Linked DNA regions of Homo sapiens. The protein of the gene in region 1 interacts with the protein of each later gene in a biochemical or structural test. Each region holds a gene or a part of one and is shown on either strand. Other genes may lie near its edges. The genes, in order: PLG, ENO1, F3 and MARVELD2.

What was found.
Region 2: the proteins of PLG (region 1) and ENO1 form a complex in vitro, tested with the Homo sapiens proteins (one study listed by BioGRID).
Region 3: the proteins of PLG (region 1) and F3 form a complex in vitro, tested with the Homo sapiens proteins (one study listed by BioGRID).
Region 4: the proteins of PLG (region 1) and MARVELD2 interact in a biophysical measurement, tested with the Homo sapiens proteins (one study listed by IntAct).

What each region holds. Positions count from the first base shown.
Region 1 is NC_000006.12:160,733,230-160,740,252, forward strand, and holds part of PLG (plasminogen isoform 1 precursor), read left to right. Parts: intron 1-765; coding exon 766-859; intron 860-3,657; coding exon 3,658-3,778; intron 3,779-5,308; coding exon 5,309-5,383; intron 5,384-5,838; coding exon 5,839-5,979; intron 5,980-7,023. UniProt on the Homo sapiens protein: Plasmin dissolves the fibrin of blood clots and acts as a proteolytic factor in a variety of other processes including embryonic development, tissue remodeling, tumor invasion, and inflammation. In ovulation, weakens the walls of the Graafian follicle.
Region 2 is NC_000001.11:8,875,676-8,882,906, reverse strand, and holds the start of ENO1 (alpha-enolase), read left to right. Parts: upstream 1-4,220; 5' UTR 4,221-4,327; intron 4,328-7,231. UniProt on the Homo sapiens protein: Glycolytic enzyme the catalyzes the conversion of 2-phosphoglycerate to phosphoenolpyruvate. In addition to glycolysis, involved in various processes such as growth control, hypoxia tolerance and allergic responses.
Region 3 is NC_000001.11:94,531,760-94,538,782, reverse strand, and holds part of F3 (tissue factor isoform 1 precursor), read left to right. Parts: intron 1-2,618; coding exon 2,619-2,818; intron 2,819-5,514; coding exon 5,515-5,693; intron 5,694-6,302; coding exon 6,303-6,462; intron 6,463-7,023. UniProt on the Homo sapiens protein: Initiates blood coagulation by forming a complex with circulating factor VII or VIIa. The [TF:VIIa] complex activates factors IX or X by specific limited proteolysis.
Region 4 is NC_000005.10:69,410,295-69,418,132, forward strand, and holds the start of MARVELD2 (MARVEL domain-containing protein 2), read left to right. Parts: upstream 1-4,821; 5' UTR 4,822-4,876; exon of another isoform or gene 4,877-5,430; intron 5,431-7,838. Other genes in the region: cell cycle checkpoint protein RAD17, read left to right, coding at 199-256, 3,737-3,998. UniProt on the Homo sapiens protein: Plays a role in the formation of tricellular tight junctions and of epithelial barriers.

The DNA.
Region 1 (7,023 bases):
GCCCCATAGAGGGCGCACAATGCATGGAAATAAATGTTTCTGAATCAACAGCAAACAGGCTTCATCGGGTAGGAGAGCGCTGAGCCCTCCAGGGACAATGCACATCAATGATGTCCCACTGTCCTTTGGTGCTGGGGCTCTAAGGCCTCCACTGGGTCAGGCTCCTGAAGGGAGACCCATTCTCCAAAGACCCCCGAGGGTCACCACTCCCTGTCCAGGGGTGTGGCCTCATAGCTCCTTTTGAACAGGGGCACAGGAAGGACGGCTTTAGAGCATTCAAAAAATAACTTTGCCAAAATAATAATAATAATAATAGAAAGGAAGAAGAGGCTGAGCATGGTGGCTCACACCTGTAATCCCTACACTTTGGGAGGCTGAGACAAGCAGATCACCTGAGGTCAGGAGTTCGAGACTAGCCTGGCCAAAATGGTGAAACCTCATCTCTACTGAAAATAGAAAAAAAAATTAGCCAGGTGTGGTGGCGTGCACCTGCAGTTGCAGCTACTCAGGAGGCTGAAGCAGGAGAATCGCTTGAACCCAGGAGATGGAGGTTGCAGTGAGCTGAGATCATGCCACTGCACTCCAGCCTGGGCGACAAGAGCAAAACTCCACCTCAGAAAAAAAAAAAAAAAAAAAAAAGAAGGAAGGAAAAAGAAACACTCCTTTATGTCTTCTAAGGATAGACATGAAATGCGTGAGCCTTGGAACACCTTCTCCCTCTCCTGCCCCACGTGAGCTGGAGCTTACATGCCTTCTTGTTTTCAGTACTGCCGTAACCCTGATGGTGATGTAGGTGGTCCCTGGTGCTACACGACAAATCCAAGAAAACTTTACGACTACTGTGATGTCCCTCAGTGTGGTAGGTTGCCTTCTTTTTGGTAAGGAAACTGCTTACTTAATATGGATTTGCAACAAAAAAGGAAAAGGGCTTCTGAGCAGACTGCTTCTGGGGAGGAGATAGCTGCCCTCTCCATCAGACCCCACTCTTCATCATGGGCATCTTGAATCTGCCCTACTATTGGCCACATTTGTTAGAGGAACACCTGCCCATCGCCCCAGGCACACATAAATAAAATAAATGTAAAATTCCCAAAGAGCAAGCTTAGAGGTAATCTAGTCAGCCCCAGGATGGTCCCACTGAATGCTGCCATGTCTAGCGTGGGATGCATGAAAAATTTAGAGTCATTCGGATGAAAAACTTTCCCTTTCCACAGCTGAGAAGTAAGAAAGAAAATACAAACAGCAGGAAACAGGTAAGCATGTAACGCACATTGTAAACCTCAGATGGCCATCCTAGGAATTCAATGAAAGGTAGTGCAGCTCTTTAGCCCCAGATGGCCTTTCTTATAAGTTTACTACTCACAAGTCACATTAGTGACATAGCTTAGAGACTGCTTGTTGGGTTCCATCCTCATTGCTCTGAGACTCTTGTTGGGAGTATGAGGCTTGGATCAGGGGAAGGGGAGTTGACATTAGTTCTTAAAGAATTGGAATAACAAATCCATGGGTATTTCTGAAAAAAAAAAAAAAAAAAAGAAAGGAAGCTACTTGGAATTGTCCCATATTTAACATTCTGCTGACCAATCAATTTGTCCTAGTTACAGAAAACCACCCTGGACTTCTCCTATGCATAATTTGGTTGCTTGTGGTTGGGTCTGCCATGTGGAGGGACCTTGAGCTGGGGGAAGGAGCTTGGCCTCCAAGTCCACTGAAGACCAGCATCCTGAGATTGCCTGGGAAGGTGGTACAGGGCAGTGATGAAGATCATGGGAGCCACACTGCCCAGCTTCGCATTTGGGCTTCTCCTAGGGACACCAAGAGGGAGGAAGGAGGGGTTAGGATGGTATGAAAGATTCTACTTGGCCAATATTATTGTAATGCGGCATTGTGATCTCTGGATTTAGCATGAGTTGATAGCTGACTTTTTCTGCAGAAGCATCTTGGTGGCACCTCTAACTCAAAGTCCCTCGATGGAGTCAGTTCCAGTTCTCCACTTCTGGCCCCATCTGGTACACACCACTGCCTCTCACTGCCCGGGCTCTCTATCCTTGACAGGCTGCCTTGAAGTTGAGCCCAGACTGATTTTCTTGCCTCAGACCCCACTACCGTGCCTGGGACTCATGCACCTTTGACTCCCATGGAAGGGAAGTGCAGTAGTTTCCCAGGTGCAATTCTGGTGTCCTCACCCACATTGAGGATGTACAAGAATCAGGTTCTTAGAGATTGGAGAAAGAAGGAAGAATGGGAACAAGATTTTTCCCAAAGGACTGTGAGGTCCCCCACCTAACCTTGATGTGAGACAAGTGAGGTTAACCCCAAGCCTGGTGAGAAGCGTTCCCATCAGACACTTGGAAATCCTGAGGACTGTTTCATGCAGAAGGATATGGTTTATTCAGGTTTGACTCGTGCTTGAGAAAGCTAGAGCCTCTGGTGGTGAATGATTTTAATAACTATTTCCTTTCCACCAACATATACAGTACAAATAATAATAAGCAAAAATAAATAGAAACATTCAGTTTTGTTTTGAATAGTAGGAGCAGGGTACCATCATTTCTGTAGTTACTCTTTTAGTACAACGATGCATGTCTACTGTATGTAAGGCATACTAGCAGAAATTGAGCTCAGCACTAGAGAAGATGATTGCATTCTATGCCTTGCTTCTTTTTTTAAAAAAAGGCTTCCATAGATAGATTCTCAGAACAGCCCATGGCAAATGTAAAGTTATTTGGAAAACCCAGGTTCCAGATTCACTAGAGCATAGAATCTCTGGTTGGTTGGGAAGGAATTTCCTCTTACAGTTGTTACTAATAATTGTATGAACAATTATTTAAAATATTAACATTTACATTTGTGAAGACCTTGAAGGGCTGGAGACAACAGAGAAGCATTTTTGAATACCCTCTGCAGCCCCTGCACTGTTGTAGGCATTGGTGGATGGTACCAAAGATGGGACACTGTCCCTACCTCCAGAGACCCTGTGGGCTGGCTACAGAGAGAAGGCAGGGAGGAGGAAAAGAAGAATAAAGTCATATGTTTAAGTCACCCCCACGGCCGTTGGTTAGTCATGGGAGGCTCCCCAGAGGAGCTGTCCTGAAGCTGGCTGACAGAAGGCAACATTTCAACTTAGGACAGTAATCCTTGCTACATACAATCACATACACACACACACACACGTGCACACACAGAGACTCACATGGAAAAATAAACCTTTGTGCCTTTCAGCAGTGATGACAATTATGGTTTTCAGTAAACTTTACATGGTTTAGATGGTGATGGTGATGATGATGATTATGGGAAGGATGGCATCATGTTCTAAACATACTGCATGGAGTCAGAATAACAATGACAAATAACCATTTGTCCCAATCAAGGTTTTCTCAGAAAATATCTCATTCTGATGCTAAACTATACCAGTCTGTTTGATCACTTCTCCAACAAAATAATTACAAAGTGCTTATATTTTCTTGAAAAGAGAGGGTCCTGTGTTGTCTACTACCACTTTTGAAACTTAGAGAAAATGTTCCAAAAGATGATGATTTTACTATTTAGTTCGGCCTTTAAGATGTCAAAAACTCAGTGCTTGGAATTTGTCTCGAATTACACCACAAAATTGCTACCTTGTCTCAAATGGGATTTCTTTCCCACCTTGTGCCACAGCGGCCCCTTCATTTGATTGTGGGAAGCCTCAAGTGGAGCCGAAGAAATGTCCTGGAAGGGTTGTAGGGGGGTGTGTGGCCCACCCACATTCCTGGCCCTGGCAAGTCAGTCTTAGAACAAGGTAAGAACAGGCCCAGAAACGATTTATACTGTCCCTCCACGTAAGCCCTGCAAAACCCTTCTACATTTACATAAAATCCACACAGCTGAGGCATCAGCACCTGCCTCTAAGTTTTCTGAAGGAGGAAAAAAGCTACAAAAATTAATATATGTATATATACATATATATTTTTATAGGTTCTCTACTGTGAAAATGACAAAAATTGCTGTCTTTTTCTTGATCTGGGCAGCTCCATCAAAATCTGTAGGCACAGTGATTTGCACCAAGTTCCAATATTGCTGGAAAATACTGAAGATGCTCTGAGGATTTCTATGGATATCCATTGTCTCATTGTCAGATGAAAAGAGGGGGAAGTTTTTAGAAATGTGACACTTTCTGGGTTGGGAGAGCAAGGACAAAATTATCTCCAGTCTATCACAGGCACAGATTCTTTTTCTTTGGACACTTTCGTGAATCATTGAATTCAATGCAGAGGCTACTCATCCATTCGCAAACAAAAAAATTCTAGGTCATGATCCCCATAAATGAAGAGTGATCAGTCCAATCCCAGGGAACCTGGACATTTTGGGTATTGTTTCAGTGGAACATGCCTTTCATAAGTTCCATTTTCTTGGGTATCTCTTAGGAAGCAAGCATAGGAAACAGGCCCATCCGTCTGCCTGTTTTGCTTCCTCATCTCACTTCTACACGAGGGTGCCTGTGCTCAATTGCTGTTTTCCCCTAAAGAGACTCTTTTCCATAAGTTTGTGAAATGCCATCGACAAACCTGATCGCATTGCATTTCACTCTGCTGTTGAGTCGATTTTTCTTTATTTTATCATTTAGTAACTCCTTGCTCTACAGAGCTTTCACCTTCCACATATTTCAGATTCATTCTTTCCTAAACTATGTGGTGGTCTACGTCCTCACTGACTTATCAACATGCTACCATCATGCACTTCCTATCTCTATTCCTCTTCTTTAAATTTGGTTCCAAATGGCTCACACCATTATTCTGAGCTATTACCTGCCTACGCAGTCCTAGAAAGTAAGTGATTCAGGAAACATTCCCCAAAAGTAAAGTTTCTCAGGTAAGATCAGAAGACTCCCATGAGTCACTGCTGCTCAGGATCACATCTGGCTCCTTGAAGAGTGATTCATCAGACCTTACATAGATCTTGTCATAAAAATGAAAGAGGCCTCGGGGGAAGGTCTTGGGCTGGTGGCTTCTGTTGGAGTCCTGGGCTGTGGGGTGAAAGCCGTGGCTGTAGAGCTTCATGCGGAGTTACTTAGCTTTGCTCTCCTGTGGACAGGCCATGCCTGTGCCTCCCCCAAGCATCGGAAAAATTGGCATAGATGGGCCCTTCTCAAAAATCCCACTCCTGGAGCACTGGCCAAAATTACTACCATCCTGATGCTGGGCTTGCAGTCCTTTCCTTTGGGAATATGAACATGGTCAAAATTAAGTGAACGTGTCTTTCTGGCTTTCTGTACAATGGAGCAGAACAAAGTATCAATTTAACTAAAATTTGAACTAAATCCTCTTTCCAGGTTTGGAATGCACTTCTGTGGAGGCACCTTGATATCCCCAGAGTGGGTGTTGACTGCTGCCCACTGCTTGGAGAAGTATGTTTAGGGGACAATTGACATGAAGTCTTGTCTTAAATACTTTTTCTGTCCTTCTTTTCCTCCTTTCCTCCTTTCCTTTCTCACTCTTCCTCCCTTCCTTCTCTGGCTGTGACACTAGGGACCAGGCCAGGGCAATTGGATAAGAGAGAAGGGAAGGGTTTCTAGAAAGAAACTGCAGAGGAAAGACACAGTACAGATGATTTTGTGGGCCTGAATAAACTGCAGAACAGAGCTGTTCACTACCATAGGCTGTATCAGTCTCTGCCCAAACAGCCCAAGAACATTCCTTAACTGCCTGTTTCAAGCAAATCATGAATTTTGCTTCTTGCCACTCAGAAGTCACTAATTCTGAGTGGCCAAGGGTGTCAGGGAGACAGCACCAATTTCATGGCACAGAGGTTACCTGAAGGGGCTGGACCATATTTTCCTCTTGACGTCCTCATCTTTTCTAGGTCCCCAAGGCCTTCATCCTACAAGGTCATCCTGGGTGCACACCAAGAAGTGAATCTCGAACCGCATGTTCAGGAAATAGAAGTGTCTAGGCTGTTCTTGGAGCCCACACGAAAAGATATTGCCTTGCTAAAGCTAAGCAGGTACTCGTTCACCTGTGGTCTTCACCCCACGCTGGTGAAGATATTTGCTTTATGTCTGGGTTTTATGGGCCATGGCCACTGCATGGCAGTGGGGAGGAACTGTCTATCACATGAAAGGCTCAAGGGCTTTGGGGACAGCATCAATCTTCAACCCTAGCCCTGCCACATGCTAGCTGTGCTCTTGAGAAAGGCAGCAGGACTCCGTTTTCTCATGTGGAAAAAGAGTTGAAATGAGGTACTCTGTTACTCCTAGAACTCACTTAATGTTCACCAGTTCATACACATTCATGATCAGAGAACGATTCAGTTATTCCAGGCTGACAATTCCCCCTTCATCATAATATGTTTAAGAGAATCATATAAGACTATATTTGTTTCAAAGCACTTTAAAAACCACAAGATCGAGTTGGGTGTCTGGTGTGGGTGCCTGTAATCCCAGCTACTTGGGAGGCTGAGGCAGGAGGGTCACTTGAGTCCCGGAGTTTGAGGCTGCAGTGAGTTATGATCGTGTCACTGCATTCCAGCCTGGGCGACAGAGTAAGACACTGTACCAAAAAAAAAAACACCAAAAAAACAAAAAACAAACAAAAAAAAAACAACTTCACAATGTCAAAAAAATCACAAATACAGTTTATAAATGTAAATTATATTATTATTATTGTCTTCTTTGATTTGATTTTCTCTTTCCTGTTGAAATGTTGTTTCACTAAGCCTGACAAAGTGAAACATTTGCTTATGTCACTCATTTAGTGCTGTTTGGAGCCAGATACTAGTTGAGTCAGCTAAGAAACAGCTATTTGTAGGAGAAGCAGGTTTGGGACAGGTGACAAGGCACGCAGGGCGCTCGCTGTGCTGGTGGTTCTGGAAGACAGGGTGTCAGTGTGGACAGGGATGAGCATGGCCTGGATGAGAAGGCACGGGGCAGGAGCCTGAGCTGCTCTCCTGGGCCTGGCCACAAGCCCAGGGCAGCTTCTCTGGGTCTGTGAACTGAGGGGTGATGTCCTGGGATGCTCTGACACTCTAGAAGGAGAGAAGAGCCTTTCC
Region 2 (7,231 bases), on another chromosome or scaffold:
GGCTGAGGCAGGAGGATCGCTTGAATCCAGGAGGCAGAGGTTGCAGTGAGTCGAGATCGCATCAGTGCACTCCAGCCTGGGCAAAAAAAAATGAGACTCCTTCTAAAAATAAAAAAAAAAAAATCATTTTAAAAAGCAAGGGAATAGACCAGGTGCGGTGGCTCACACTTGTAATCCCAGCACTTTGGGAGGCTGAAGCAGGTGGATCACGAGGTCAGGAGATCGAGACCATTCTGGCTAACATGGTGAAACCCCATCTCTACCAAAAATACAAAAAATTAGCTGGGTGTGGTGGCGGGCACCTCTAGTCCCAGCTACTCGGGAGGCTGAGGCAAGAGAATGGTGTGAACCGGAGAGGCGGAACTTAAAGTGAGCTGAGATCAGCCACTGCACTCCAGCCTGTGCGACAGAGTGAGACTCCGTCTCAAAAAAAAAAAAAAAAAAAAAAAAAAGCAAGGGAATAATAAAACACAAAATTTAGAATAGTGGCTACCTCTGGGGTCAAAGAACATACAGGGGACCTAAATGACATTACTAATGTTCCATTTCTTTTTTTTATTTTTTTGAGAAGGAATCTTGCTCTGTCGCCCGGCTGGAGTGTAATGGCACACTCTTGGCTCATTGCAACCTCCGCCTCCCGGGTTCAAATGATTCTCCTGCCTCAGCCTCCCGAGCAGCTGGGAGTACAGGCATGTACCACCACACCCGGCTAATCTTTGTATTTTTGGTAGAGATGGGGTTTCACCATGTTGGCCAGGCTGGTCTTGAACTCCTGACCTCAGGTCATCCACCCGCCTTAACCTCCCAAAGTGCTGGGATTACAGGCATGAGCCACCGCACCCGGCCTCCATTTCTTTTTTCTTTTTTTTTTTTAACTTTCCATTTCTTTTCTTTTTTTAACTCTTGTTGCCCAGGCTGGAGTGCAATGGCATGATCTTGGCTCACTGCAACCTCTGCCTCTTGGGTTCAAGCAATTCTCTTGCCTTAGCCTCCTGAGTAGCTGGGATTACAGGCATGTGCCACCACACCTGGCTAATTTTTTGTATTTTTAGTCGAGATGGGGTTTCACCATGTTGGCCAGGCTGGTCTCAAACTCCTGACCTCAGGTGATCCACCCCCCTCAGCCTCCCAAAGTGATGGGATTATAGGGGTGAGCCACCATGTCCGGCCCCATTTCTTCCTTTGAGACAGGTCTTTATCTCCCAGGCTGGAGTGCACTGGTACAATCATAGCTCATTGTAATCTTAACCTCCTGGGCTCAAGTGACACTCCCACCCGAGTCTCCCAAGCAGCTGGGATAGGACTACAGGCATGTGCCACATCTGCCTAATTTTTTAGTTTTTACAGAGACTGGGGTCTCCTCCATGTTGCCCAGGCTGTTCTGCTGTTCTGGAACTCCTGGGCTCAAGCAATCCTCCTGCCTCAGCCTCCCTAAGTGCTGGGAGTACTGATGTGAGCCACTAAGCCTGGACTCTAGGGTTCCATTTCTTTCTTTCTTTCTTTTTTTTTTTTTTTTTTTTTGGAGACGGTGTCTCGCTCTGTCATCCAGGCTGGAGTGCAGTGGCGTGATCTCGGCTCACTGCAAGCTCCGCCTCCCGGGTTCAAGTGGTTCTCCTGCCTCAGCCTCCTGAGTAACTGGGACTACAGGCGCCTGCCACCAAGCCCAGCTGATTTTTATATTTTTAGTAGAGACGGGGTTTCACCATGTTGGTCAGGCTAGTCTTGGAACTCCTGACCTCGTCATCCGCCCGCCTCGGCCTCCCAAAGTGCTGGGATGACAGGCGTGAGCCACCGCGCCCAGCATGGTGTTCCATTTCTTAAGCGGGATGTGGGTACACAGAGATTTATATACGCTTTATGTAGTCTCTGGTGTACGTGAAATACTGAGTGATGAATACCAAAACCTCATGATCTGTTATGAGGAGGGACCATCCAGCTACATCCCCTTCTGCACTCATCTGGTATCTTACCTCCCCAGAGCTCCTTATCCAACCCTGAAGTTCCCTATCTGGCTGGAGACCCTCTTTCACAAAGATCCCTTTCTCAAGCTGACCAGTGATTTTTACACACGTATCACAGGGAGAATCAGTAATCCAAGCGAGTTACAGGTCGTAGCAGATTCACTCTCCCTTGATCCCGGCCACCTGCAGACACCATGCATGTGTTACCTACAGTGCTTCAAGGTGTGGTATTCTGATAGCTTTGGACAGTTATTCCCCACCTGCCCACCACCAATAAAACTTCTCAACAAGCTTACAGCAAGTGAGAAATAATAACTAAATGCAATGCCGTTGTGCTGACTACAAGCAAATGTGAACCCCACAGCCTGCTAACAAAGCCTAAGGAGCTATGGAAACAGGGAGGGCATTTGGCAGCCTGTGAATTTTGAAAAAGATTTCAGGACATCTCTAGTAATCATTAACATTTTAGCTACAATGTGAGGTCGAAGTGCTGGCTCAGAATGTGGCGCTGCAGCCTCCAAGAATCTTGCAACGGCAGCAGTCCGGGATCATGTTCGGCCTCTGATTTCCTGCTAGATTTACTGGTTCTGGCCACAGCAGAGTATCTTTATCTCTCTAACCATTTTTATGTAAAATAAGATTGTTTGGAGCCCTTTCAGGGCCACGCCTTAGAATTGCTCTGAGAGTACCAAGTGCCTGATTTCTTAGAGTCCTTACCAGTAGGAGATGTTGGCTGTTGATTTAGCTGCTGAGTCATGGGGCTGGGGATAGTGGTTTTCAGTAGCCAAAAACGTTAGTGTGTTGCTGGTGAAATCACAAACTCTGCTTGCAAAATTTTACTCTTTTTTTTTTTCTTTTTGCTGAATTTAATCCTAAAGTTCTTGCTTCTTACTCACTGGAAAGCAAATACTATGGTCTCAATAGGCCTTAATTTTTAACCAACGCCATGGAAACCTGTCTGTAGCTAAGAGGATAAAAATGCTAGGGGTTAAGGAAGAAAAGCAGGTTTTGCAGCTGACCAGAAGAAATAATTAAATTCAAGTACATATTTGAACACCTCTTTACAAGGAAATGAGGAAAATCAGATGTTTTAGTTCTCTTACAGACCAGCAGTAATGTTGAAAAATATAAAAGTAGCCGTAACAGAAAACGAAGTGATCATCTCAGCCCTCCCTTGGAGTGGGGGGATATATTGCGGAGCTGAGTTTTAATGGCTATCAGTTCTTGATCAGAAAAGTGAAATCACTCCAACTCCTTCCGTATTCCACGGAATATGACCCGTCTTGAACTTTGAGAAATTCCCCGGGTCTGTGTGAAATTCCAGTTCCAAATAATTCACATGAATGGTTCACAAGAATCCAGGTAGGTTTGATCTAGTTCCCTAGATGGGAATGAGAGGGATGTAAAATTTGAGAGGCAACATGACATGGACTAGAGAGAGAATGAATTAACACTGGGGAAGCACGTGGGGGCGCGCCGGACACCTAGAAGGCACTCAAAAAGTATGAGGTAGAATTAAAGGAAAGTGAACCTTCCTTTGGCTGTCTCGGCCTGATTCTCACCGCAGCAAGGAGAAAGGGACAGGGTCACCTTGGCGGGTGCCAGGCGGAGCCCGGCCAGACGGGCGCGGCTGGAGGGCAGCGCGCAGGCGCAGGCGGCGCACGTGGCCCCGGACACGCAGCGCTGCGGCGGGGCCAGCGCCCCAACCCCGGAGTGGGGCCGAGGCGCGCAGCCTCTCAACGACTCGACGCCAACGGGGTCTCTCGGATCGCGGCGCGAGGCAGGAGGGGCGGGGCAGGAGGGCCGCGGCAGGCCCGGGCCGCCAAAGTTGTCAGCAAGGTCGAGGGCCGGACGTGGGGCCCCAGAGCGACGCTGAGTGCGTGCGGGACTCGGAGTACGTGACGGAGCCCCGAGCTCTCATGCCCGCCACGCCGCCCCGGGCCATCCCCCGGAGCCCCGGCTCCGCACACCCCAGTTCGGCTCACCGGTCCTATCTGGGGCCAGAGTTTCGCCCGCACCACTACAGGGCCGCTGGGGAGTCGGGGCCCCCCAGATCTGCCCGCCTCAAGTCCGCGGGACGTCACCCCCCTTTCCACGCTACTGCAGCCGTCGCAGTCCCACCCCTTTCCGGGAGGTGAGGGAATGAGTGACGGCTCTCCCGACGAATGGCGAGGCGGAGCTGAGGGGGCGTGCCCCGGAGGCGGGAAGTGGGTGGGGCTCGCCTTAGCTAGGCAGGAAGTCGGCGCGGGCGGCGCGGACAGTATCTGTGGGTACCCGGAGCACGGAGATCTCGCCGGCTTTACGTTCACCTCGGTGTCTGCAGCACCCTCCGCTTCCTCTCCTAGGCGACGAGACCCAGTGGCTAGGTAATGATTGGGGAAGGGCTGAGCAACGGGCAGGCGGCGCAGGGCTTTTCTGGGCTTGTGGGGCTCTTTTCCCTCCGAGGGAGGCGGCGCGCCCGCAGGCCCAGCGTGGCGGGGTCGGGGGCACGTGCAAGCCGCCTCCCTGGGTGGGAACTGGCGCCCCCGCTCACCCCGAGGCCCGGGGCGGGGGCGCAATGCCAGGCGCACGTGCTGGGCCCCCGATTTCTTTGGAGGGGAAAGTGCAGATCAACACGTGATTACCGACTGCGGGGCCGAGTCACTGTCAGGGAAGGTCGGGAGCTGCACACGCGAGCTGCTTAGCACAGCGGGAGTTGGGAGTGGAAGTTGCTTTTCCATCGTAGCCAAGTGTAAGGTTTTTGGGATAGACGCAGACTTAGCGGCGGTGGCCACTCAGGCCAGGCCCTTCCTAAAATGGAGGAGGGCGGCGATAGTGGAGATGGCCACGAGGCTGCGGCCCCCTCCCCCACCGGTAGCCCCCGCCTCTCGCCCGCGCTCGCGGCCCGCGCTTCTGCCTAGTAAGCGGTGACTCATTTAACTCCGAGAAGGCACCTCTTGAGGAACCTACAGCAGAGCCGTTAGATCATTGGCAAGTCCTCCAGGCGACCTCGCCCAAGTTGGGCAAGAGCGGCTCCCCGGCTGGCCACCAAAAATCGGGCCTGATCTGATTTGGTTTTTTTTTTTTTTTGAGTTTTGCTATTGTTGCCCAGGCTGGAGTGCAATTGCGCGATCTCGGATCTCGGTTCACCGCAACCTCGGCCTCCTGGGTTCAAGCGATTCTCCTACCTCAGCCTCCCGAGTAGCTGGGATTACAGGCATGCGCCACCACGCCCGGCTAATTTTGTTTTTTTTTTGTTGTTGTTGTTGTTTTAGTAGAGGCGGTGTTTCACCATGTTGGCCAGGCTGGTCTTGAGCTCCCGACCTCAGGTGATCCGCCCGCCTCGGCCTCCCAAAGTGCTGGGATTACAGGCGTGAGCCACCGCGCTAGGCCAAGAAGGATGTATTTTAAGAAAGCTTCCTGTTCAATGTTCCCCTGCTCTGTGCGCTTCTCTGGGCGGTAGGGTCCATTGCTTCACTTGCCTTTCAGGCCCACCCGGGCCCTGACTGCTCCATTCATTTACCGTGTCCCTAATTCGGGGTTCCATCCAGGCAGCTAAAAAAGCTGTGAATGGTCCGGGCGCGGTGGCTCACGCCTGTAATCCGAGCACTTTGGGATGCCGAGGTGGGCCTCCTCAGGATCACCTGAGGTCGGGAGTTAGAGACCAGCCTGACCAACGTGGTGAAACCCCGTCTCTACTGAAAATACAAAAATCGACCAGGCGCGGTGGCTCACGCCTGTAATCCTAGCACTTTGGGAGGCCGAGGTGGGTGGCTCACGAGGTCAGGAGATCGAGACCATCCTACTCTACTAAACCCCATCTCTACTAAAAATACAAAAAATTAGCCGGGTGTGGTGGTGGGCGCCTGTAGTCCCAGCTACTCTGGAGGCGGAGCCTGCAGTGAGTCGAGATCGTGTCACTGCACTCTAGCCTGGGCGAAAGAGCGCGACTCCGTCTCAAAAAAAAAAAAAAATCACCTGGGCGTAATGGCAGGCGCCTGTAATCCCACCTACTCGGGAGGCTGAGACAGGAGGCTGAGGTTGCAGTGAGCCAAAATGGCGCCATTGCACTCCAGTCTGGGCGACAACAGCGAAACTCCGTCTCAAAAAATAAAAAAAAAATCACACTTTATTTTCACATCCTAAGACGTTTGTCTTTTTTTTTTTTTCTGAGACGGAGTCTCTCTGTCGCCCAGGCTGGAGTGTAGTGGCGCGATCTCGACTCACTGCAAGCTCCACCTCCCGGGTTCACACCATTCTTCTGCCTCAGCCTCCTCTCCTGACCTCGTGATCCACCCTCCTCGGCCTCCCAAAGTGCTGGGATTACAGGCGTGAGCCACCGCGCCCGGCCAAGACTTTCTTTCGTCTTAAGTCACTAAAATGAAAACAAAAGTACTGAGGCACCCTAATAAAATTGCCTTTAAAAGTATGACTGAAATACTCAAAGTATACCACAGTGGTGGCCTGGAGATGGGGCAGGGGGATATTGACTGGAAATGGCCTGAGATAACTTTTTGCAGTGATGGAAATGTTACTCGGGTATATAATTTGCCAAAACGCAAAATTAAATCTAAAAATATGTTTAAACAAATTTGCCTTTTTGGAACCTAGTAAAAAGTAAGTACCTTTTTTTGGCTAATGAATAAAACTCCATTGTTACATAGACAACAAAGCCACAGAAGTGACTTCAGTAAATAATTTTGAAAGTTAAAAACCTGCCACTTGCCACCTCAGGACATTCCAGAGAAGATGTTGGAGGGGAGCCCAGGTAGATAATGGCTTTAAACACTAAGTTCCTCTCACCCACCTCAGTTCTATAAGTTGTTCAGTTAGTTTCTTTGGAGAGCGCCAAGGAAAAAAGTAAGAATGGGTTTTTCTTTGAGGAATTGGTATTTGTTGTTCATTGCTGGAAATTCTTGTATTTTTTTTTTTAAGGTGGTGTTAAAGGAAGCCCCTTCCCTTGAAGTATCCTGGTGTTCAAAGAATCTTTCCTCTATTTACAAATTATAAAACCCCGTTGGGAAGAAATAATTAGATGTCATTATTGGCTGGTCCTGGTGGCTTACCCCTATAATCATCCTAGCATGCTTTGGGAGGCCAAGGCAGGGGAGGATCGCTTGAGCCCAGGAGTTTGAGAGCAGCCTGGGCAGCATAGTGAGACCGCCATCTCTTAAAAAAGTAACTAAAATAAAATAAAGATGTTATCATTAATGACATAACAACACTGAAGACCCAAGTACTGTGAAATTGGAAAGTCCCAGGAAGTGGCAGTAGCCAAGATCACACGGTCC
Region 3 (7,023 bases), on another chromosome or scaffold:
GCACTCTTCTCCTGCCCACCCCAGGAATAAATGAGATTCCTGGTTAAAAAGGACCAGAGCAGTCATTTTACAGTTGAGGAAACTGTTGCTCTGAGAAGTGAGGGATTTATTCATGACTACACTGATGGTGAGTGCCCATGTCAGGTCTGGAACCAAAGTCTACCCAGTATCCACACACCACCATCCCTCAGGTGGCTCTGCCACAGTCTGATGGGAGGCTCCAAAGCGGGAGGAAGAAGGAAAGTCTTGCCCACTGCATCTCCTCAGTTGGCCTTCCTCTCTGCCTGTTTTCCCTCCCTACAGTTAGCATCTTAAGCAGCTGCCCCTCTTCCCTCCCGACTGCTCTCACTACTGCAGCCTGGCTCCAGCCGCAGGACACTACTGCTGTGCAGAAGCCCCTACTTGGAACTCCAACTGCATTTTTCACCTTTGCTAACAGTTTTCAGTGGTGGTTGGGAAATGTTATTGGCTTAAGCCTTAGCACAAACCGTCACCGGTGATATTCATTCCATGGAAATGTTCTGAATTCTAAAGCTGAATTTACAAAGCTTCTGGAAAACAACCTGCAACCAAATTAGTGACTGAATTTTTTAGTTAACTCAAAATTCCAAATCAGAGGGTTTTGCAATGCCTGGAGGAACCTTGGAGGCTTTTAAAGTGTTAATGCTATTAATGGCATTCAGAGGGATTTTCTACAGAATTGTCCCTTCATTACCTGTTTATACAGTTTTACTACTTACCAGGGTACTGTATAAATCCTTGTGCTAAATTTTGCTATAGAGTATGTGGTCCCTGCTGTGAGCTGGGAGGAACCAAATACTGTATCTCTATGTTACATAGAAAGCCCTAGGAGACTTTCTCCTGTTATCTGAACAACTATTTGCTGTACTGATAAAAAGGAAACAGCATAGTCTCATTCACTTTTTGAAATGGAAATGATAAAATAAAACACATTTTGGTCATTCGGGAACAAAATACCCTCTCTACTTTTATCACATAAAATTAAATAAATAGAAACCAAAATATTTCAGTATCAATCTTAGTTTGTGCACTTTAGGATAAAGAATGTGTTTACCCAAATCCTTTTGGCCTGGTTACTTAGTTCAGATTTTGAAAGAAAATATATTTGTGGCTTTTATGTGTGAATTTAGACAATGGAATCCATGTGGTGCCTCGTTTTCCCTGAGATTATGTATTAATTCAACCTGTAAATGCAAACCATCTAATAGTCAGCGAGACCCTATAGCCCTGCTGCTTAATGGGGGCACACAAGGGCATGCAGCCCTCGTACCAGGCAGACTGTGTTCATATTAACAGCATCGTGGAGAAACTCATGCTGGGGGACAGGGGAGGGAGATGTAAATGCTCAGCAGGGAGATCTGGAGATTCCTGGAGCAGGTGGAGTTGGGACCTGGCCTTGAACGATGGGTCTGGCTCTGGCAGTCAGTAATGCCAAAGGGAAGAGCAGCATAACTGTCACTTTCCATGGGACAGAAGTGTGTGAATCAAGTTGCAGTGACGCTTCACCTATTTATTATTTTGGTCATTTAGAAGAATTTCATTGTCAGTAGAAGTCCTTTAAATCATTTCCCCTTCAGTGACGTCTCACAAAAGAAAGATCTGTCTTTAGCTTTTTAGTCTCAGACTTTATTAGACAGATACTACCTGTACTCTTATTCTGTAATCTTTGTTGGGATGGATTCACATCTTGCAAAGGAAGGGAGGCATGTAGTATAATGGGGCAAACAGACCCAGCTCTGCCACTCGTTAGATATGTGACCTTCTGCAAGTTGCTTAGTGCCTGTGAGCTTCAGTGTCCTCATGGATAAGAAAGATCCAACACCTTCTTGGAAGGATTATATCAAATGAAGTAACATGAGTAAAGGGTCCAGCAGAATACCTGGCATATAGTGGAGTCAATGAATGATTAATAATATTATTAATAGTGGTCATGAGAGAATATATGTATAACATGTTATTATGTAGACTCACTATATAGACTCTATTCTACATAGAATATAGAACATTATATAACAAACAACTATAATAAGTAGACTATAGTAAACAACCTCACTTTGTCTCAGTTGCCTCATCTTGATGGAAAACTGCTCTTTCTCTCCTGTTACCCTGACAGAGAGCGTCTACATTCTAAAAGAAAGATATTTAACAAAATGGTTGAGTACAGATCCAAGAGTCAAATAGCTGTCTGGTTCAAAGTCCAGCTGTGTGATTTTGAGCTAGTCACCCAATCTCACTTTGTCTCAGTAGCCTTATTTGTAAAAACAAGGCAAATTACAGAGCCATCCCCTGGGTTGCTATGAGGACTCAAACATGCATCCCAAGTGCTCGGTGTTGCTAGGTATGATGGCTCACACCTGTACATTCAGCACTTTGGGAGGCCGAAGCAGAAGGATCAGCCTGGGCAACATAGCAGGACCCCATCTCTACAAAACAATGTTTAAAAAAAAGCAAAGTGCTCAGCACAGTGACTGCATCATTAGGATTGATTGTAGGGCTCCTGATGTTAGCACAGAACACCACAGCCAGGAAGCAGTCTATCTTGTTGGGTGCAAATTGTAACATTCCATTTATGTTTCTTCCTTCTTTTCTTTCTTTAGCACTAAGTCAGGAGATTGGAAAAGCAAATGCTTTTACACAACAGACACAGAGTGTGACCTCACCGACGAGATTGTGAAGGATGTGAAGCAGACGTACTTGGCACGGGTCTTCTCCTACCCGGCAGGGAATGTGGAGAGCACCGGTTCTGCTGGGGAGCCTCTGTATGAGAACTCCCCAGAGTTCACACCTTACCTGGAGAGTAAGTGGCTTGGGCTGTAATACCGTTCATTCTTGTTAGAAACGTCTGAACATTCTCGTGATCTTGTGCCTTTAGGGGCTACAAAATTAAAAATATTTATTCTTTTTTTCTCAGAAACTGGTATGTATCACAGCCCTCTTCACACATTCCAGATGTGGTAGGAGGTTCACAGAATGTGAACTTTGGAGCTGATGACAGTGTCATCAAGTAACTTTCTCCCCCAGTCTGTCCCCAGACCCTGTTACTGTCCTCAGTAACCGGCTGAATGTGTGTTGGGAGAGGGCGGGCCAGGGAAGCGGGTAGGGATAGGAAATCCACCAAGGCCGGGGTTTTAGCTTTTCCCTATATATATATCATGTATCCTGATTTTTCTGTCCCGTTATCACACTAAAAATCCCAGTTGAGGATTTTTCCCAAACGGTCATAAATCAATGAGGAAAGTCCATGGTTTCCCTCTGAGCCCATAATTAGCCTAATTATGCTGACCTTTTCTAATCAGTTGGCCATGATTTGAGTTCCGTGATGTGCCAGCACCTGCCCAGCCATCTGCCTGTCACCCTCGTTCTGGTTTTGGAAAGGTGGAATACTTTCCTCCTCAGCCTTTGCCCCTGTAAGCTGGCCCTAGGAGCCAGTAAAAGAATGAAGAGAATTCCTGTCAAGTAGGAGATTTATTCTTTTGCCGCAACTGTGGCTCTGAGCTAGGCAATTTAGATAAATGCATGTAGCACATTGAGTAGAGTGAAATTAGCTTCTCTTGTAAGGCCAGCTGGTTAGAATGAAGGTGTTGTGTGAGTGTTAGGCCCAGCGAGAGAGAACAGTTTCTCAAGGTAGGAATGGTGAAAAGAAGGGGTGGACGGACAACCAACCAACCATCCTCCTCTGGTATCTACTTTGAGGGTTGAAATAGGGGGCCTGACCCCAGGTGAATGTGGCTGCCTTCCCAGAGCCCCCATTTGCAAGACCCTCCAGACCCCCAGGTGCTTCTGCTTGTGTCTTTTGTGGCACCAGGCAAGAATGTAGCAGCGTCAGCAGCCCCTCTGGTGACTGTGGCATGGTTGACATTCATTTCCCCCCTAATTAATGGCATCCTCATGATTCTCTTTTATATTAATAGTTCTTGAGTTTTTTTGTAAGCTACTTCAAATCCTTTGTTGGTGCAAGATAGAAGATATTTTATGTGTTTGTTTTGCATGTGCACACACATATTTGGCCTGTGAATTGATGTTTGTTTTCCTGTCATTTAACCAAAGCACATGAGATAATTGAGCCATTGCAGAGACCCCGTGGTTAAATCCGGCTTCTCGAGGTACCAAGGACATTTCCTGGGCTTTCTCACAGCCCTACATATTTTTGAACCTAAAATATCGTAGTTTATGCTACCACCCTGTTCAGTATAGTAGCCACTAGCCACATGTGGCTGTTGACCACTTGAAATATGGCTAATGCTCTAAGTATAAAGTACACACTGGAATTTAAGAAGTGTAGAATATCTCAAAACTTTTTTATATTGATTACACATTAAAATGATTATATTCCAGATATATGCAGTTGACTCAAGCAATGCATGGCTGAGAGGCACCGACTCCCTGTGCAGTTGAAAATCCGAGTATAACTTGACTCCCCAAAAACTTAACTACTAATAGCCTACCTATCGGTTGACTGTTGACTGCAGCCTTACCAATAAGATAAACAGTCAATTAACACACATTTTTCATGTTGCGTGTATTATATACTGTATTCTTACAATAAAGTAAGCTAGAGGAAAGAAAATGTTATTAAGAAAATTATAAGGAAAAGAGGCTGGGCATGGTGGCTCGTGCCTGTAATCTCAGAACTTTGGGATGCTAAGGCGGGTGGATCACTTGAGGTCAGGAGTTCAAGACCAGCCTGGCCAACATGGTGAAACCCCATCTCTACTAAAAATACAAAAATTAGCCAGGCGTGGTTGTGGGTGCCTGTAATCCCAGCTACTTGGGAGGCTGAGGCAGGAGAATCACTTCAACCCAGGTGGAGGAGGTTGCAGTGAACTGAGATTGCGCCACTGCACTCCGGCCTGGGTGACAGAGCGAGACTCTGTCTAAAAAAGAAAGGGAAAGAAAGAAAAAAAAGAAAAGAAAAGAAAAGAAAGAAGGAAGGAAGAGAAAGAATTATAAGGAAGAGAAAATATATTTACTATTGATAAAGTGGAAGTGGATCATCATAAAGGTGTTCATCCTCGTCATCTTCATGTTGAGTAGGCTGAGGAGGAGGAGGAGGAGGAAGAGCAGGGGCCACGGCAGGAGAAAAGATGGAGGAAGTAGGAGGCGGCACACTTGGTGTAACTTTTATTTAAAAAAATTTGCATACAAGTGGATCCACAGAGTTCAAACCCATGTTGTTCAGGGGTCAACTGTCTTTGGTTAAATAAAATATATTATTAAAATTAATTTCACCTGTTCCTTTTTACTTTTTCTAATGTGACTACTAGAAAACTTAAAATGACATCTGAGGCTCCATTGTCTTCCCCTTGGGCCAGCACTACCACAGAATGTCTTAGGATTCAGCTCCAGGCCGCCACGCCTGCTTCTTTCAGGGAGCTGGTTCTATGCACATGTTTTATATGAGAGATAATTAAGTTGTCAATTGTGATAACAAAACAGGATTTGACTTTGTACAGAATTCTTTGGTTCCAACCAAGCTCATTTCCTTTGTTTCAGCAAACCTCGGACAGCCAACAATTCAGAGTTTTGAACAGGTGGGAACAAAAGTGAATGTGACCGTAGAAGATGAACGGACTTTAGTCAGAAGGAACAACACTTTCCTAAGCCTCCGGGATGTTTTTGGCAAGGACTTAATTTATACACTTTATTATTGGAAATCTTCAAGTTCAGGAAAGGTGAGCATTTTTTAATTTGTTTTTATGACCTGTTTTAAATTGTGAATACTTGGGTTTTACAACCCATTTCTTCCCCAATTCAAAAATAGCAGAACAGAGTTGTTGAGAAGGTGATGGAGTAGAAGGGGGAGCGCGCACTGTGGGGAGGGGTGGACAACAGGCCTGGTCCTACCTGTGACTCTGCACTACCCTGTGACTCTGGGCAGGGCCCCCTCGGAGACCCAGGTTCCTCAGCCAACCGGCTGGATCAGGTCATCTCTAAAGGTCCCGCCATGCTCACATTTCTCCCTCTATTGAGGATCCCAGGCACAAAATTTGTTTTTGGTTCAATGCATAATACTCCCTTCCTTTTTCTTTTACTGCAGATATCTTCTAAAGGGGCTCAATAGGGTTCAATATGCCTAAATTGGATCTTCTCAGTCTTGGAAAAGGCATTTTTAGCAGTGATCAAGGGAAACTGATTAGCGAAGTCACTTCTAATCCTTCACGTGTCAGCTGTGTTCTTGTAGGCTTTGCTTAGAACCTAGGTTTTTACTTCCACAGTGACTTAATAAAGGGGAAAGAATTGACTCAGAGCCCAGATGAATTAAGAACTCTATCTTTTTACAGAAAACAGCCAAAACAAACACTAATGAGTTTTTGATTGATGTGGATAAAGGAGAAAACTACTGTTTCAGTGTTCAAGCAGTGATTCCCTCCCGAACAGTTAACCGGAAGAGTACAGACAGCCCGGTAGAGTGTATGGGCCAGGAGAAAGGGGAATTCAGAGGTGAGTGGCTCTGCCAGCCATTTGCCTGGGGGTATGGGTGCTGTGGGTGACTTCTGGAGGAGTAGCTCCACCCTCAGGGCTGGGATATACTTCCTTGGTTAAATATTCAGGAAAACAAACTGCCTGGAGGTTTTTTGTTGTTATTTGTTTGTTTTGGTTTTGATTTTGCTTTGGTACAAAAAAGATTTTGGACATTTAGAAATGTTTCTGTGTTGATTGTGCCCTTGTATTAGCAGGTGTTTTCTTGAGCACCTGTCATGTGCTAAGCCCTCTGCTGAGCACTGGATACACAAACTGTGTTTAGGATTTAGCAACAAGTCACAGATTTCCCTGGGCATTTTTTCATGCTTAAATTCTAATTCTGGGGGTGGCTTCTGGACCAGCTGCAGCAGGACACAGTAGACATTCGTGAGTACCCACTGTGGGCTGTTGCCACAGAGGCTGTAGAGTCTAACCCATCAAGGGAAGGGATTGAGTATATCAAATATACCCACATGCATGCATGTGTGTATATGGCGGACACGTGTGTGTACATGCATGTGCATATGTTGGGAGCTCAGG
Region 4 (7,838 bases), on another chromosome or scaffold:
TCCACATCCTTACCCACACTTCTTGTTTTCTGGTTTTTTGTAACAGTCATCCTAATAGATGTGAATTGGTATCTCACTATGGCTTGGATTTGCATTTCTCTAAAGATTAGTGATGTTCAGCATCTTTTCAGGTGCTTATTGGCCATTTGTATATTTTCTTTGGAAAATTGTTTACAACTTTTAAAAAATCTGTTTCAGCTCAGATTTCTTTTATCCAAGATATTGGAAGGCTCCCTCTGAAGCGACACTTTGGAAGGTAAGCTGATCATCTCAATTTCCAAAAAGCTGATAATGAAATGTCTACTGAATATGTTCAGTATGAATCAATAACTGTTACCTGTAACATCCAAGAAAGACATACTGTACCTAGTAATTTATAAACATAATTGTATTGTAGACCCTTCCTTTTCTTAAATATAACAGCATATCTTCACCCACTCCCAATGGACTATACCAGATTAAATGGAAGCATGGAATCACAAAGGCAGAGGAATCTTTAAAATCCTCCAACTCAACAAATCTAGAAACCCCTTGCCAGCTTTCCTGTTGAGAGATGTTCTTAGCCTATGCTTGAAGACCTGCAGTGACTAGGAACTGCCTCAGAAAGTAGAAGAGTCCTTCATATTTTCTTATTTTAGAAAATTTAAACAAGCAAAAAATAGATGTCTGTCTATATATATATATATATATATATATATATATACTGTTCATTTTATTGGAAAGTAGCTTCTGTGCCATTATCAGTGATTAACACAAAACTTATATTTCAGTTTGACTTAGCTTATTTGTAAGATCGAATTAAGCACTTAGGAATTGTTTAAAGATTTTAAAAATGGCCGGGCGTGGTGGCTTATGCTTGTAATCCCAGCACTTTGGGAGCCCGAGGCAGGTGGATCACCTGAGATAAGGAGTTCAAGACCAGCCTGGACAACATGGTGAAACCGTGTCTCTACTAAAAATACAAAATTTAGCTGGGTGTGGTGGCACATGCCTGTAATCCCAGCTACTCAGGAGGCTGAGGCAGGAGAATCGCTTCAACCCAGGAGGTGGAGGTTGCAGTGAGCCAAGATCACACCATTGCACCCCAGCCTGGGCAACAAAAGCAAAACTCCATCTCAAAAAAAAGATTTAAAAAAATCTTGCTTACTGAATGCATGGACAAAAGTAAGTGATAGAAATGGCACCTCTGACTCCTCCTACCTTTTCTCCTATTTCTGGTCCCAAATGGAAAACTCCTGTGATGTGAGCTTTTTCCCCCTCTTTACCCTCCAAGATTCATTAAGGCCTTTGTAGTGTTAATGTTTTTTTCTGTATACTGGCTTAGCTATGTGGGGCCCATCTTTCCTATCGCAGAAAGACCATGATGGATGGATCTTGAAGCATCGTCCCACTGGGATGTGATCAGGGCTTACACATTTCATAAACACTGCTTTTCTTCTCACATCCCTCTGAATGAAAGCAGGACCAAGTCTCTTTGATGGCTTCTCTCCCCAACCCCCTAAGATTATGGCATCAAAATAAAGACAAGTATGTTCTATTGTATTTTTGCTCCTGAGATGTATTGAGTTGCTGCAATTTACACAAGGCTAAATTGAATGAGAATCTTCACTATTTTATTATTGGTTCAACTACCTACTTGATGTGACTTGAGAGGCAGTATTTTCTTTTCTTTTTTTTTTGTAGACGGAGTCTAGCTTTATCGCCCAGGCTGGAGTGCAGTAGCACGATCTCGGCTCACTGCAAGCTCCACCTTCTGGGCTCACACCATTCTCCTGCCTCAGCCTGCCGAGTAGCTGGGACTACAGGCGCCCGCCACCACGCCCAGCTAATTTTTTGTATTTTTAGTAGAGACAGGGTTTCACTGTGTTAGCCAGGATGGTCTTGATCTCCTGACCTCGTGATCCGCCCACTTCGGCCTCCCAAAGTGCTGGGATTACAGGCGTGAGCCACCACGCCTGGCCACGAGAGGCAGTATTTTCAGTGCTATATATTACAATGACTGGTACTATCTTTTATTTATGTTGACCATATTTAAAACCATTGTTCATATGTTTAGTATTTAGTATTAAATATTAATACTTAATATTTAATAGGTGTTTAATTTCCTGTAATTCAACCTACACGTTATTTTTGCCCATTTAGCTTTTTTTCAGCTTTTACTATCCCAGCCTTATAGATAAGTCATCATGCACTTCAAATACTATTTACTTAGGGTGAATTCCTACAAATGAAATTGCTGGATCAATAGGTATATACCTTTTGGGGCTTTTCCTCTTTATTGCCAAATTGTTGGCAAGAATATTTTGCCAGTTTTGTATCCACTTACAGTGTATCAGTATGTTCTTTTCTCCTAACCCTTGCCACCACTGGGTTTTAAAAGTATCTTTGCCAGTTTAGAAGATGACAGTAATAGGCCAGGCGCAGTGGCTCATGCTTGTAATCCCAGCACTTTGGGAGGCTGAGGTGGGTGGATCATCTAAGGTCAGGAGTTCGAGACCAGCCTGGCCAACATGGTGAAACCCTATCTCTGCTAAAAATACAAAAACTAGCTGGGTGTGGTGGTGCCCGCGTGTAATCCCTGCTACTCCAGAGGCTGAGACAGGAGAATCGCTTGAACCTGAAGTGGAGGTTGCAGTGAGCCAAGATCGTGCTACTGCCCTGTAGCCTGGGTGACAGAGCAAGACTGTCTCAAAAAAAAAAAAAGATGACAGTAGTAGCTCATTATGTTAATTTTCATTTTTAAAATTACAAATTAGATTTAACAATTTAGGAACCATTTGTATTTGTTTTATAAGTTGTCCATGTTTGTGCCCATTTTTCTATTTCATTTTTTCCTTTTTAATTTGTAAAAATTCTTTACTGAAGGCTGGGTGTGGTGGCTCACACTTGTAATCCCCGCACTTTGGGAGGCGGAGGCAGATGGATCACCTGAGTTCGGGAGTTCAAGATTACCCTGGCCAACATGGTGAAACCCCATCTCTACTAAAAATACAAATTAGTTGGGCATGATGGCATGTGCCTGTAATCCCAGCTACTTGGGAGGCTGAGGCAGGAGAATCGCTTGAACCTGGGAGGCAGAGGTTGCAGTAAACTGAGATTGCACCACTGCACTCCTGCCTGGGCGATAGAGAAAGACAGTCTCAATGAAAAAAAAGAAAAAAGAAAAATTCTTTACTGAAGACATTATTTCTTTTTATTTTTAGGTGTTTTTGTTGTTGTGGTTTGGTTTGGTTTTTTTGTTTGTTTGTTTTTTGTTTGGAGACAGAGTCTTGCTCTGTCGTACAGGCTGGAGTTCAGTGGCACGAGCTTGGCTCACTGCAGCTTCTGCCTCCTGGGTTCAAACAATTCTCCTGCCTCAGCCTCCTGAGTAGCTGGGATTACAGATGCGTGCCACCACGCCTGGCTAATTTTTCTATTTTCAATAGAGATGGGTTTTTGCCATGTTGGCCAGGCTGGTCTTGAACTCCTGGCCTCAAGTGATCTGCCTGCCTTGGCCTCCCACAGTGCAGATAGTACAGGCATGAGCCATCGTGTTCAGCTCCTTTTTGTATTTTAAGTTGTAGGAACTTATTCAGTTTGTCATTTACCTTGTAGTTTTGTTTTTATAGTTAAAGGGACTAGCTAAACAGCACAATGTAGGTAAATGAAAGATGGCTTCATAATCATCACACTCATGGTGTAATTTAAAAATCTTCTCCTTTGGTTCTTATTAATGCCTGCACTGTGAATCTGACAGATTGAAAATGGAAGCCCTGACTGACAGGGAACATGGAATGATAGACCCTGACAGCGGAGATGAAGCCCAGCTTAATGGAGGACATTCTGCAGAGGAATCTCTGGGTGAACCCACTCAAGCCACTGTGCCGGAAACCTGGTCTCTTCCTTTGAGTCAGAATAGTGCCAGTGAACTGCCTGCTAGCCAGCCCCAGCCCTTTTCAGCCCAAGGAGACATGGAAGAAAACATAATAATAGAAGACTACGAGAGTGATGGGACATAGAAGCCAGCCTGCTAATCAGATTGCTACTTCACAGCTTCATTTTTGTTTCATTCAGTGGTACTTCAGCAGAGTTAATATGCTTTTCTGATGAATTACACAACAGTTTGTTAATTCTTCATTCTTGTAGTATTTCATCACAAGAAACCTACTCTTCTGTCATCTTGAAGTAAATAGAAGATCAAGCCTTCAAATCTCTTAATTTTTTCGGTATTTATTAAATCTGTGAGTGGTTTAAGGAGCGGTCAGTGTGTATAAAGTGTGTTTGAACATTATGCCAAATATCAAGATGTGAAGGACTAATTCAGGATGCAAAAACGTTATTGGGGGGTTGTAAATATCAACTATTCAACAGTTTAGGATGCAATTACGAGTGTAAACTGTGTGCCTTATTTACACTTTATTGTCTCCCGCTTCTCAGATAGTTTTGATGTGTTGTACAGTGGAATATCTTAGATACTTTTTGGAAAGTATTTACATAAGTTATATCACAATTAAAATGTTGAATTTAATTTTGTTTCTCCTGTCTTTTAACATTATCTAGCACGCACTCGCTGCCATGGGTCCTTAAGCACAGTGCACCAATCTCCCTCCCCCAGTGTCAAACTTTTCAAAAGATAGGGAAGAGGATGGCAACGTTGCGATGAGAACTGTAAACTCTTTCCAAAAGAGCCCAGTGTGTGGTCATTGCCGCGACGTGCCGGCTGGTGGCACCGAGCAGCCTGGGCCCAGAGCGGTTGTCGGGCCGACAGATCCGGGCGGGGCAAAGCCGGGCGGGGAAAGCTGGGCTCGTCCCGTCCCGGCCCCGCCCCCACCCCGGGAGCCCGATACCGGTTTCAGAGTCCTGGGCAGCGTGCGCGCTCTTCCTGGCGGCTGCGCAGGTAAGTGGGACCGGGGTGGGGCCACGTGACCGGGAGAGGAGGGCCCGGCGGCCCCCGGCCCAGGTGTGCTGCGACGGACGGCTGCCCGCGCTCGGCGCTCAGCCTGCCATAGCCCGCGGGGGAGGCCGGAGCCAGGGATCCGGGGAGGCCCGCGTCCCGCCAGGTTTCGCTCTGCGGACGCAGGTGCGGCCGAGCCGCCGTCCTTCCGGGCGCGGGGCGGGGCGCGCACCTCGGGGCGATCTCGGTGCTCCTTACCTGGGAGGTCTCCCGGCTTAGTTTCGGCCTCGTTGGGTCGGAATCTCCAAAGACAGTGGGTTTCAGCCAGAAACGCGAAGACGAACGCCTAGCCGGCGCGGGCAGAACCGAGGACACAATGAGATTTGTGGGACCGGGCGCCCAGAGGCTGGCGCGGGGGAGACCCCACAGCTAAAATGCTCGGTACCCCCGGGCAGTCGTGGGTTAGTTAGAACCGCAGAGCCTTTCCCGACCCCTCGGAAGCGCAGAAGTATCCGAAATCTACCCGTTTCTTGGGTCCAGCAAAACTTTTAAGCCAGGTAAACCGGTGGTTCTGTTTGTGTAAAGGTGACCAGGCATGATTCCTGTGACACTTTGCTGGGGCAGCCATTTCTCCTGCCATTGCCGCGGCTTTCCAAGATGAGTGTCCAAGAGTGGAGTAAGGGTCCGGGGCCTGAGCAGGACAAAGACACACGCTGCCGCGACCTGCGGGACCAGAACGAACTCTCAGTGACATCTTGAAAGACATTAGGGGTATCCAGATATTTAAGATGTAATGAAATACAGCTAACCATTCCCTTCTAAAAATCACATTATCTTGCTTTTCCACAACTCTTTAATAATTGCTTGTTTTTTCTTTAAAAATGGATAGGGTGGTTTGATTCAAATAAGCCACTTCACAGGTGAAGAGTTAAATCCATTACAGTGAATCGTATTTTTACCAGTGAGTTGAATTAAGCATAGCGTATCCTGTAAATGCTGTGTAAAACTTGCTAAAATCATTTGTTGTGCTTTTGCTTCTACATTTCTTAGGAATGTGTTTCAAAAACTAGAGTCGTAATAGCATTTCTAGAACTTACACTTTTTTAGAGAAAGAAAGAGAAAGGTACAAAAATAACTGATTGTTATAATATACAGAGCCGCTTTGCATTGGGCACCCTGCTGGGGCCATCACAGTTAATCCTCTAAGGTCGGAGTGCCCTATTAGAAGACCCTGGGTTTCCACCGCATTCCCTTGTCTCCAGTCTGTACATACCCTGTGTGCCTTGCTTGCCCTCTTAACGTCTCTACCTGGATTTTTAACGCATCTGAAACACTCTTCAGTCTGCTGCTCCCCAAGGCTAAGCTGGAGGGGTGGAGAATGAGGTATAGATAGATAAAATGATCAGATGTCTGGGGTTTACTTCAGAGGACTCTATTGGCAGAGGAAATAGTATGGGGAGTATAAATGAAACAAGTTTGGCCATAAATCGATAAGTGTAGAAGCTGGATGTGGGTACACAAGGGTTCATAATGCTATTCTTTCTACTTTTTATTATGTTTGAAAAATTCTATAATAAAAATTTTAAATACCTGTCTAGCATTTGACCTCTTCTCAAGATCTCAGTGATCCATTGGATTATTTCAATGGCCTAGCCAGTCTTCCTGTTTTACCTCTTGCCTTCTGGAGTGTACTCTCAACACAGCATCCATAGTGATACTGTTAAAACAAGTCAAGTCATGTCACTCCTCTATTCAGAATCCTCCAGTGGCTTCTCATCTCACTCCTAGCAAAAGACAAAGTCCTTTCTTTCCAGTGGTTTTCAAGGCCCTACATGATTCAGATGGCCTCAGTTCTACTATTCACCTTCTTACCCACTTTGCTGCTGCCACAGTAGCTTCCATGCCTAAATATTTCTTGAACATACCAGGCACTCCTGCTTCAGGGCATTTGCGCTAGCTATTCCATCTGCCTGAACACTTGTCCCTGATAATGGCCTGGCTTCCTCCTTCACCTTCAGTTCTATACTCAGATATCCCTTTCTCTGTGAAGATTTCCCTGCCCACTCGGTTTAAGATGGTAACATCCTGTCCCCATTGCAGTCTTTACCCCCTTTCTCAACTTTGTTCTTTAGCATACTGTATATTTCATTTATCTATCATCTGTCAATCTGCCCGGCACTCCCCCGGTTAAAGCATCATGAAGGCAAGGATTTCAGTCTGGTTTGTCCACCAGTATACTTTCAGCATGCCTGGTGCAAGGCAGGTTAAATGAAGGGTCTTCGTTTTCCAAAGTAAAATAAAATAAAGCCTTAGGAATTTCCAAATTGTTCAACAGTATAAAGATGGGGTTATCAGACCAGGTGCAGTGGCTAACGCTTGTAATCCCAGCACTTTGGGTGGCCAAGGCAGGAGGATCGCTTGAGCCCAGGAGTTCAAGACCAGCCTAGGCAACATAGTGATACTTAATGTCTACTAAAAATTTTAAAGAATTAGCGGCCGAGCGTGGTGGCTCACACCTGTAATCCCAGCACTTTGGGAGGCCGAGGCGGGTGGATTATGAGGTCAGGAGATCAAGATCATCCCGGCTAACATGGTCCCCATCTCTACTAAAAATACAAAAAATTAGCCGGGCGTGGTGGCGAGCACCTGTAGTCCCAGCTACTTGGGAGGCTGAGGCAGGAGAATGGCATGAACCTGGGAGGCGGAGCTTGCAGTGAGCCGAGATGGCACCACTGCACTCCAGCCTGGGCAACAGATTGAGACTCTGTCTCAAAAAAAAAAAAAAAAAGAATTAGCTGGGTATGGTGGCATGCACCTGTAGTCCCAGCTACTCAGGAGGCTGAGGCAGCTGGAGTGCTTGAGCCAGGGAGATTGAGGCTGCAGTGAGCTATGATTGTGCTCCTATGCTCTGGCCTGGGAAACAGAGTGAGACCCTGTCTTAAAAATATTAAATAAATAAAACAAT